Regions from separate parts of the Homo sapiens genome. Here regions 2, 3 and 4 are each linked to region 1. The links come from fine-mapping of genetic effects on gene expression. A gene starts in region 1. Each other region holds a variant in brackets. All regions are shown on one strand. Distances are between the middles of the regions.

Region 1 (2,744 bases):
CTGAATGAGGGCCTTCTCGTGAGGTACTGACAACACCAGCAACTCGAGAGCTGGGAAACTCAAGGAGGAGGAAGAAAATCAAAACCACCCTACTCCCTGGGGTGAGGAAAGAACAGGAGGGGAGGAGGAGGAGTGTGCTCTGCACTTGCCTTGCTCCAGGATGGGGTGGCAGCAGAGGAATGTCACAGGTCAGCAGCCTAGGCCTCCAGCTATAAATAGTCCGGAGGGCCCGAGAGGCTCCCGCCCGTCCAGCAGGGCTGTCAGCTTCCTGTGTGGCAGCACCTGGCACACTGGCTCTGGCCAGCATTATGCTAAAACCCTGTTACTCTCCAATGAACCAGGGAGGCGGGCTCCTCTCTGCGCCTATCCCTTGAGAATTCTGTCTTACCAGTGAAGGGTGGGGCTGCCCAGATCAGGCAGCAGGAGTGAGGGGCACAGTCACCCCAGGCCTTGCTGAGCCCAGGTCTGGGTACTGAGTGTCCAGAGCTGCCTCCCCAGGAGGTTAAGGTGGGGGCAAAGGGGAAGCTTCAAGCACTTTGCCTACTTTTGTTCACTCCCCAGTGCACTGTGACTCAGGCCTTCCCATCAGGCCTATTTGTCTACCCAATAAAGCGTGTTTTTTCCAGAAACAAGAAGAGTTGGGAGAGGGAGCTTCAGTGCATGTGGCAGTGCGTGTGCTGGCGCGTATCATTGCACGTATGTTTTCCCTCTTACCGTAGGAAAAATGAAAAAAGAAATCCCTCCTCCATAATCGCAGCTACTCCAGGGGTCAGCGGCGGTGCCCACTCAGTCCCCATCCCTCTCTCTCCCCTCCCGCCAGCGCCCCCTCCCGCCCTCGCCGCAAGCTGGCCCCGGCCTTGCCGGCCCTTCTTAGGGGCTTTATCATGCCTCCTGCAAGAATAGAGATCACACACGGGACGGAAACGTTAGACTCTCATCCCTTGTGCCCATTCCTTGGTCACGGGCCAAGCTGCCGCATCCTTAGCGGTCCAGGCATCGCGGTGCCCCTCGGGCCCCTACCTGGACTAGGCCCACAGCCGGGCTCTAGGGGGCGCGCGATCCACCTCCAGAAGGCCGGCTGCGAAAATCTACCCAGCTACTGGCGACGTCACCGCACCGTAGGCTGAGGATTGGCTGACTCTGATTTAGCATCCTAAAACTTCCGGTTCCAGAGCTTGGCTCGCCAAAGACCCTCCCTCGAGGGAGAGAAACCACAGCCCCCAGAATTCAGCGGGCCTCTCCGAGAGCACGGCGCGTCTGAGGATGCGTAGTAAGGATAACGGGCCCGGAAGCCGGAAGTTCAAAGCCGGCCTCCAGCCAGAGTGACGGCCTGCGCGGACTCCCGCCTTAGTGGGCGGAGTTGTGCCGCGTCTGATGCGCAGTTCCCTTTATAGCGCGGCAAGCCGAATCCTAGAGGCTAACCCGGCAGGTGGGAGGGAGAAAGTTGCTTTCTGCACCAATAGCTGAGGCGTTCAGGGTTGTCCAGGGACGCTACCCTCACGTGTCTGGTTCCGAGTGCTGCGTTCGGCTGTGCTGGGAAGTTGCGTAGACAGTGGCCTCGAGACCCTGCCTGCCTGAGGAGGCCTCGGTTGGATGCGAAGGAGCTGCAGCATCCAGGTACGCTGCCGGCTAGGGCCGAGCAGGGGCTGCCAGTCCCACTGCCTGCGCGCCCACCTGGGCCAGTCTCCGCTTGCCGCGTCCTCCCATCCCCTAGTCTGCAGGCCTGGTGCCCTTGAATTCACCCGCTTCTGTTGCGTTGCGGACCGCGAGCTGCACTGCTTCCTGCCCAAGCCCAAGCTCCTCGCAGCAGTAGGTCAGTCTTGCTAGAGCTCAGCGCTAATCCTGTCAAACCTCGACTCCTGCCTGGCGTCTCGACCCTCCACGCTCCAACTCTGCCTCTTCCTTGCTCTATAGACCTCTGCGTCCTGATAAGTGGCTCTCCGGGGCACCCTTCGTGCATATCGGCTATCCAGCTCCACCTCTTGACCGCTTTCACTTCCTGGAATGCTCTCACTGCTCCTCTTCTCCAGGCCATCCTTCTAAAAAGACAGTTCCACTCCCACCCCGATTCCCACCCCTACACCTTTCTGCTAAGTTTTCTCAAGCCCCCACCCTGTCTTTGAGCTGTTGTCTCTGAACTCTCACAGTGCCTCTCCATGAGACCATAAGCTCCTGTATGACAGAAGCCATGTTCTTTTTAGCGGCCTCCGTAGCATGATGTACGTTATGTTATGTTATGTTATGTTATGTTATGTTATGTTATTTTGAGACAGGGTCTTGCTTTGTCGCTCAGGCTGCAGGTGTGCGCCACCACGCCCGGGTAATTTTTAAAAAAAGGTTTTTTTTTTGTTGTTGTTGTTGTTGTTTTTAAATAGAGAAAAGGTCTCCCTATGTTGCCCAACCTGGTCTCCAACTCCTGAGCTCAAGCCATCCTCCCGCCTCGGCCTCCCAAAGTGTTGGGATTACCGGCGTGAGCCACCGTACCCGGCCGATGTACTACTCTCTAAGTGCCAAACAAAAAGTAGATAAAAGATGATGGATACCTTAAAAGCCCTGAGTTGACCACTATGCAGTGTATGCATGTAACAAAATCGCACTTCTACCCATACGTTTACGCAATTTTTTTTTTTTTTTTTTGAGACGGAGTCTTGCTCTGTCGCCCAGGCTGGGGTCCCGTGGCGGGATCTCGGCTCACTACAAGCTCCGCCTTCCGGGTTCATGCCATTCTCCTGCCTCAGCCTCCA
Region 2 (2,744 bases), 950 kb after region 1:
TGATTTATTTTTATTTATTTATTTATTTTGAGACAGAGTCTCATTCTGTTGCCCAGGCTAGAGTACAGTGGCACAGTCTTGGCTCACTGCAACCTCTGCCTCCCGGTTCAAGTGATCCTCCTACCTCAGCCTCCCAAGTAGCTGGATTACAGGTGTGCACCACCACGCCCAGCTAATTTTTTGTATTTTTAGTAGAGATGGTTTCACCATGTTTGCCAGGCTGATCTCAAACCCCTGGCCTCAAGAGATCCATCAACCCAAAGTGCCGAGACTACAGGTGTGAGCTACCGCACCCAGCATATTTATTTATTTTTCAGTCTCACTATTTTAACCAAGCTGGTCTTGAACTCCTGGCCTCAAGCAATCCTCCCATCTTGGCCTCCTAAAGTGCTGGGAATACAGCCGTGAACCACTGTGCCCGGCCTTTTTAAAAATTATTTTTTAATTAGCCAGGAGTGGTGGCACATGCCTGTAATCCCAGGTACTTGGGAGGCTGAGACATGAGAATTGCTTGAACCCAGGAGGTGGATTGCAGTGAGCCAAGATCGCACCACTGCACTCCAGCCTGGGTGATAGAGTGAGACTCTGTCTCAAAAAAAACCCAAAAAATAAAATAAAATTATTTTTTATTTTTGTAGAGACAGGGTCTCACTATGTTGCCCAGGCTGGTCTTGAACTCCTGGGCTCAAGTGATCCTCCCGCCTTGGCCTTTCAAAGTGTTGGGATTACAGGCATGAGCCACTGCGCCCAGCTCCTCACCTCATTTCTGTGTCTTTTTTCTCAAGAAACTTAGCTAGGGGGAAGGAATTGCCCACAGAAATTTTGGTTTGTATTTCTTTTCTTCTGGCACTTCAGAAAGCAAGGATACTGCAGTTTAGACCTACTATTTTAGCTTATATAGGACTCTTTGCTTTTGTCATCTTGTCCATCACTAGTTTTCAAATTGCCATGAGGAAAGGCTTCATGTGGGAATGAGATTGTAACTTTTTTTTTTTTTTTTGAGACAGAGTCTCGCTCTGTTGCCCAGGCTGGAGTGCAGTGGCATGATCTTGGCTCACTGCAACCTCCGCCTCCCAGGTTCCAGTGATTCTCCTGCCTCAGCCTCCCGAGTAGCTGGGACTGCAGGTGCATGCCACCACGCCTGGCTAATTTTTGTATTTTTTAGTAGAGATGGTGTTTCACCATATTGGCCAGGCTGGTCTCCAACTCCTGACCTCGTGATCCGCCTACCTCGGCCTCCCAAAGTGCTGGGATTACAGGCACGAGCCACCGTGCCCGGTGAGATTGTAACTTATTTAAAGGAGATTTAGGATTGTTTGTGGATTTCCATTTCCTTGGCATAATCATTCTATGATTATTAAGGACCATTTCTGTTCTGAGTGGTATAGGCTTGTTATCTCCGTGGCCTGAATTCTACGCATATTGGTGAAGATAGGTGTCGAACTTGGCTGGGAGAATGGCTGCAGATTTCCTGCAGCCTGAAAGGTAAAACACATTTCTGTGGTTATACCACTAAAATCCAAGTCACTTTTGTATTTTATTCTGAGGTCATTTTGGAGTTAATTATTGAGTACTGTGAGACATATATATACATACATCTAATTGAAAGGGCACAAACTCACATGCCTACTGCATGCCCGGCAGGTAACGAAGTAGGCCATAAGACAAGAGGGAGTAGTGGGGACTGTGGAAACCTAAGAGTGAATGCATGCTAGTGTGAATTTTCCAACCTTGGCACTTCCTTATGGGGGGAATATCCTGTG[C/CTTTA]TTTATTTATTTATTTATTTATTTATTTTGAGACGGGGTTTCGCTCTTGTTGCCCAGGCTGGAGTGCAATGGTGCGATCTCGGCTCACCGTAACCTCTGCCTCCTGGGTTCAAGTGATTCTCCTGTCTCAGCCTCCCAAGTAGCTGGGATTACAGGCATGCACCACCACGCCCAGCTAATTTCGTATTTTTTTTTAGTAGAGACCAGGTTTCTCCATGTTGGTCAGGCTGATCTCGAACTCCCGACCTCAGGTGATCCGCTGGCCTCGGCCTCCCAAAGTTTTGGGATCACTGGCGTGAGCCACCATGTCCAGCCTATCCTGTTCTTTATAGGTATTTATTATAGCAGTATCCCTAGCCTCTACCCACTAGATGCCAGTAGCACCCCTTCACCCACAGTTGTCTCAACCAAAAATGTCTCTAGACATTGCCAAATGTCCTAGGGGTGGGGAGGAGAGAGGCAGGATTGTCCCCGTTGAGAAGTACTGGTCTAAAGGCATTCAAACTCAGAAAAAAAACAGTCTGCTGACCAAACACAAAGCATCTGAGGGTATGTATTAGGCTTGTTTGCCCCCTGTTTAGGCTAGGTCTTGATGTTTTGTGGGCCTTTGGATGTTAGGGTAGGCCTACTAATCTTGAAGCTGAGAAATGTCCCTAGAGCACCAACTTCTACCAGAAGAATCCCAACGCGACTGGTGTTTAGTACCATTACCATCTCTGAATTTTCTACTGCAATCACATGAGAAATAGAGGATGAGTTGATACGAATATATAGTAGAAGGAAAGGAAGGCATGCATACAGGGGCTGAAACAAAGAAGGGGAACTTTGAGAAAAACAGCTTCTTCATTCCACCCCTCCCTGCACTTGGCTTCCTGCCTCCAGGCTTAAGCCATATATAACAAGGCAGTTATAAGGCAGTGTTCCCAAGCCAAACCACTAACACTGTGTTTTCAGAAGCTGAGCTGTCTCTCTTGCTGCACA
Region 3 (2,500 bases), 52 kb after region 1:
CTCCTTTGCCCAGGCTGGAGTGCACTGGCGCTATCATAGTTCATTGCAGCTTTGAACTCCTGGGCTCAAGCCATCTTCCTGCATCAGCCTCCTGAGTAGCTGGGACTACAGATGCATGCCACCACATCTGGCTAACATTTTTATTTTTTGTAGGATCAGGGTCTCGCTATGCTGCCCAGGCTGATCTCAAAGTCCTGGTCTCAAGCAATTCTCTCACCTTGGCCTCCAAAGTGTTGGGATTACAGGTGTGAGCCACCATGCCAGGCCCCAATATTTATTTATTTTTGAGATGGAGTGTCGCTCTGTTGCCCAGGCTGGAGTCCAGTGGCACGATCTCAGCTCACTGCAACCTCCACCTTCCAGGTTCAAGCCATTCTCCTGCCTCAGCCTCCCAAGTAGCTGGGATTACAGGCGCCCGCCACTACGCGGGGCTATTTTTGTATTTTTAGTAGAGATGAGATTTCATGTTGTTAGCCAGGCTGGTCTCAAACTCCTGACCTCAAGTGATCTGCCTGCCTCGGCCTCCCAAAGTGCTGGGATTACAGGTGTGAGCCAGCATGCAAGGCCATGCCCCGATATTTTTGATATGCCTTCTATTGCATTCTACAAGTGGCTCTAGGCCAGGGGCAGTGGCTCATGCCAGTAATCCCAAAACTTTGGGAAGCTGAGGCAGCAGGATCGCTTGAGGCCAGGAGCTCAGGCCTCTACAAAAATTTATTTTATTTATTTTTCTGAGACAGGGTCTCACTCTATCACCCAGGCTGAAGTACAGTGGTTTGATCACGGCTCACTGCAGTCTCAACCTCCCGGGTTCAAGCAATCCTCCTGCCTCAGCCTCCCAAGTAGATGAGACTAGAGACTATAGGCATGCACCATCACACCCAGCTAATTTTTAAATTTTTTTGTAGAGACAAGGTTTCACCATGTTGCCAAGGCTGGTCTCAAACTCCTAGGCTCAAGTGATCTGCCCTCCTCGGCCTCCCAAAGTGCTGGGATTACAGGCATGAGCCACCATGCCCAGCCTCTACA[AT/A]TTTTTTTTTTTTTTTTGAGACAGAGTTTTCCTCTGCAGCCCAGGCTGGAGTGCAACAGTGTGATCTTGGCTCACTGCAACCTCTGCCTCTCCAACTCAAGCAATTCTCATGCCTCAGCCTCCTGAGTAGCTGGGATTACAGGCATGTACCACTATGCCCAGCTAATTTTTATATTTTTAGTAGAGATGGGGTTTCACCATGTTGGCCAGGCTGGTCTCGAACTCCTGGCCTCAAGTGATCTCCCTGCCTCGGCCTCCCAAAGTGCTGGGATTACAGGTGTGAGCCACCATGCCCCGCTCTCCCAATTTTTTTTTTTTTTTTTAATTAGCTGGGCATAGTGGTGTGCACCTATGGTCCTGGCTACTTGGGAGGCTGAGGTAGGAGGATTGCTTGAGCCAAAGAGGTCGAGGCTGGAGTGAGCTTCGTGCCACTGCAGTCCAGCCTGGGTGAGGCTGAGACCCTGTCTCAAAAACAACAATAAGAGTGGAGTGGTCTATTTTCTTTATGGAAGACCAGAACGGTAAAAGAGGAATTGGCAAGTCAGCAGTGAATTATATTACTGAGGTAATGGGTCTTAAAAGAAACAAAATAGCAAGAGTGCTTCTAGGGTTAAACTTTCCTAAGAGCAAACATGAGACAAACAAGGTGCCTGTCTTTACTAGCCAAGAATTATCATACTAGAATGCTTTCAGCTCAGTATTCCCATCCACCTGTACTCCTCTGACACTGGAGCACCATAGAAACACTCAGATAGAATTCCCACAGGTAAAGGATCCCTTCCAGCAGCTCTGCCAGGGGATATATGTCTTCAGCCATCTGAGGGAACACTTTGGAATCTCAAGAGATACGTAAGTTTATATAAAATGGGTGTTTATAAGCAACAAAACTATTTCCTCTTACCACTAACATGGGGAAATTTCCATATTGGCACATATTTATATGAAAAGCAGAGATGTTTTTCTATGAAAATCACCTTTTAAAAAAAAATTTGTCCTGACTTGTGTATTTTCCTTTGTAGTGATTACATTGCCTTCCTCCTTTTTTTTTTTGGCCCTCATATACAGAGACTATGGAAGAGAGTACCTGGATCTAGTTTATTCCAAAGACAGACAAGCAGTTTGTGCCTCCACTCCAGGATGACTAACTACAACGATTACACGTAAAAAGACAAAACAAGGCCGGGCGCGGCGGTTCACGCTTGTAATCCCAGCACTTTGGGAGGCCGAGGCAGGCGTATTACGAGGTCAGGAGATCGAGACCTTCCTGGCTAAGACGGTGAATCCCCGTCTCTACTAAAAATACAAAAAATTAGCCGGACATGGTGGCGGGCGCCTGTAGTTTCAGCTACTCGGGAGACTGAAGCAGGAGAATGGCGTGAACCCGAGAGGCGGAGCTTGCAGTGAGCTGAGATCGCGCCACTGCACTCCAGCCTGGGCGACAGAGCGAGACTCCGTCTCAAAAAAAAAAGA
Region 4 (2,744 bases), 58 kb after region 1:
TGTGCCAGGCACTGCATGGAACATTTTACACAGGTTATTTCACTCCTTCACCCTATAAAGTTGATCTTGTTATCCCCACTGGATAAGTAAACTGAGGTCCAGTGAGGCCAAACAACTTGCCCAAAGTTATGTAGGTAAGAAGTGGTAGCTAGTGTTAAGTCAAGTTTAATCTAAAGCTGCCTCCTTACATATTTAAGTTCGGCCTAAAGGTTTTCTGTACATTGTGAACTGTAACAAGTGGAGGTGTAAATCGAACGTAGACCACACCAGTGCCAATCACTGAATTTTGGCCAATCAAATGTAGCCAACTGTTCCAACCACGTTCAAATGAGACAAACGCTGATCTGTAACCAATCTGGTTGTTTCTGTACCTCACTTTCATTTTGCTGTCCATAAATCTTCCACCACGTGAATATGCTGGGTCTCTGTGGATATGCTGGGTCTCTCTGAATCTGCTGTGATTCAGGGGCTGCCCAATTTGAGAATCATACATTGCTCAAACTCCTTTAGGCTGGGCACGGTGGCTCACGCCTGTAATCCTAGCACTTTGGGAGGCCGAGGCAGGCGGATCACAGGTCAGGAGATCGAGACCATCCTGGCTAACATGGTGAAACTCCGTCTCTACTAAAAATACAAAAATTAGCTGGGCGTGGTGGTGCGTGTCTGTAGTCCCAGTTACTTGGGAAGCTGAGGCAAGAGAATCGCTTGAACCCAGGAGGCGGAGGTTGCAGTGAGCTGAGATAGCACCACTGCACTCTATCCTGGGCAACGGAGTGAGACTTTGTCTTGGAAAGAAAAAACAAAACAAACAAACAAACAAAAAACTCCTTTAAATTTGGCTGTTTTGTTTGTTTGCATGTTTTTTTGTGAGAAGGAGTCTCACACCCAGGCTGGAGCGCAGTGGTGCCATTTCTGCTCACTGCAACCTCCACCTCTGGGTTCAAGAGATCCTCCCTTCTCAGCCTCCCGAGTAGCTGGGACTACAGACACGTGCCACCACACCCGACTAATTTTTGTATTTTTTGATAGAGCCTGGGGTTTCACCATGTTGGCCAGGCTGGTCTCGAACTCCTGACTTCAAGTGATCTGCCTGTCTCAGTATCCCTGTTGGGAATGAAGTTTTTGGTGTTGCAAAAAGAAAA[G/C]AAAAGAAAACAAAACAAAAACAAAAAAACACGGGAACAAATGATCTCTCAGCAAGGAGAGCTTTACTTTCTGCAGAAAGGGTGCTGCTACTCAAAAGCTGTCTAGCCATGAGAGCACACCGAACAAAGGAGACAGAGTTATTTATAATCTGAGGTGTCTACCCTACTGCTGTGTCCATTTTCCATTGGCTGGAATAGGACCTCACATTTTACACTTTACCTGATTGGCTATTAGTTTAAAACTTTTAAAATTGGTTAAGGGGAACAGAACAAAGAAAGAAAAGGAAGTTGCCCAGGGATCATTAAGGAAGCATCACCAAATAAGGAATGGCATGCACTGTGGGCTGGGGCTTGTCTAGTTCTGTCCAGGCATGCAGGAGCAATCTAGGACAGCTGATTTGGAATACACACACACACACACACACACACACACACACACACACACATACATACACACACACACACACACACAGTGGATAGCAATCTTATAGTAAGAAATTGTGACTTTTTATAATCTTTGAAGAACTTTCCGATTTCTCACACTCCCAAAGTGCTGGGACTACAGGCGTGAGGCCACTCCGCCCAGCCTAAAGTGTTTTTTTTGTTTGTTTGTTTTGTTTTGTTTTTTGTTTTTTGTTTTTTTTTGAGACGGAGTCTCGCTCTGTCGCCCAGGCTGGAGTGCAGTGGCGGGATCTCAGCTCACTGCAAGCTCCACCTCCCGGGTTCACGCCATTCTCCTGCCTCAGCCTCCCAAGTAGCTGGGACTACAGGCGCCCGCCACTACGCCCGGCTAATTTTTTGTATTTTTAGTAGAGACAGGGTTTCACCGTTTTAGCCGGGATGGTCTCGATCTCCTGACCTCGTGATCCGCCCGCCTCGGCCTCCCAAAGTGCTGGGATTACAGGCGTGAGCCACCGCGCCCGGCTTTTTTTTTTTTTTTTTTGAAACGGAGTCTCGGTCTGTAGCCCAGGCTGGAGTGCACTGGCGGGATCTCGGCTCACTTCAGCCTCCGTCTCCTGGATTCAAGCTATTCTCTCCCCTCAGCCTCCCGAGTAGCTAGGATTACAGGCAGGCTCCACCATGCCCTGCTAATTTTTGTATTTTTAGTAGAGATTGTGTTTCGCTATGTTGGCCATGGAACTCCTGACCCAAGTGATCCACCCGCCTGGGCCTCGCAAATGGCTGGGATTACAGGCTTGAGCCACCACGCCCGGCCGAATTTTTTTTTTTTTTTTTTTTTTTTTTGAGACGGAGTCTAGCTCTGTCGCCCAGGCTGGAGAGCAGTGGCGCGATCTCGGCTCACTGCAAGCTCCGCCTTCCAGGTTCACGCCATTCTCCTGCCTCAGCCTCCCTAGTAGCTGGGACTACAGGCGCCCGCCACCACACCCGGCTAATTTTTTTGTATTTTTAGTAGAGACGGGGTTTCACTGTATTAGCAGGATGGTCTCAATCTCCTGACTTCGTAATCCGCCCACCTTGGCCTCCCAAAGTGCTGGGATTACAGGCGTGAGCCACTGCGCCCGGCCTAATTTTTGTATTTTTATGAGACGAGGTTTCACCATGTTGGCCAGGCTGGTCTTAAACTCCTGACCTCAGGTGATC

Alleles and levels. Positions count from the first base shown, and alleles are read on the strand shown. Sizes are in standard deviations (SD) of each study's normalised expression. Not every link is listed here.
For the expression in prefrontal cortex of the gene that starts at base 1,552 in region 1, allele A in region 3 goes with a lower level than allele AT (small effect, 0.25 SD a copy in BrainSeq).

What was found.
Region 2: its variant is fine-mapped to the expression of COX14 in lymphoblastoid cells (GTEx, PIP 0.98).
Region 3: its variant is fine-mapped to the expression of COX14 in prefrontal cortex (BrainSeq, PIP 0.94).
Region 4: its variant is fine-mapped to the expression of COX14 in whole blood (TOPMed, PIP above 0.99).

The regions. Positions count from the first base shown.
Region 1 is chr12:50,110,685-50,113,428 of GRCh38, forward strand. COX14 (cytochrome c oxidase assembly factor COX14) reads left to right here and starts at 1,552. Exons shown (of 2, transcript NM_032901.4): 1 at 1,552-1,617. It overlaps GPD1 (glycerol-3-phosphate dehydrogenase 1), which reads left to right. Exons shown (of 8, transcript NM_005276.4): 8 at 1-629. RefSeq lists enhancers at 992-1,041, 1,102-1,361, 1,582-1,821, 1,832-1,881.
Region 2 is chr12:51,056,644-51,059,387 of GRCh38, forward strand. LETMD1 (LETM1 domain containing 1) reads left to right here. Exons shown (of 9, transcript NM_015416.5): 8 at 1,389-1,485; 9 at 2,718-2,744. Among named protein-coding and RNA genes, the nearest start is that of LETMD1, 9.7 kb to the left of the region's middle. The variant C/CTTTA (reference allele first, on the strand shown) is at 1,764.
Region 3 is chr12:50,162,931-50,165,430 of GRCh38, forward strand. All of the region lies in intron 1 of CERS5 (ceramide synthase 5), which reads right to left. It overlaps LOC124902931 (a long non-coding RNA gene), which reads left to right. Exons shown (of 2, transcript XR_007063304.1): 2 at 2,096-2,500. Among named protein-coding and RNA genes, the nearest start is that of CERS5, 3.2 kb to the right of the region's middle. The variant AT/A (reference allele first, on the strand shown) is at 1,030.
Region 4 is chr12:50,169,020-50,171,763 of GRCh38, forward strand. No RefSeq gene overlaps it. Among named protein-coding and RNA genes, the nearest start is that of CERS5, 3.0 kb to the left of the region's middle. The variant G/C (reference allele first, on the strand shown) is at 1,143.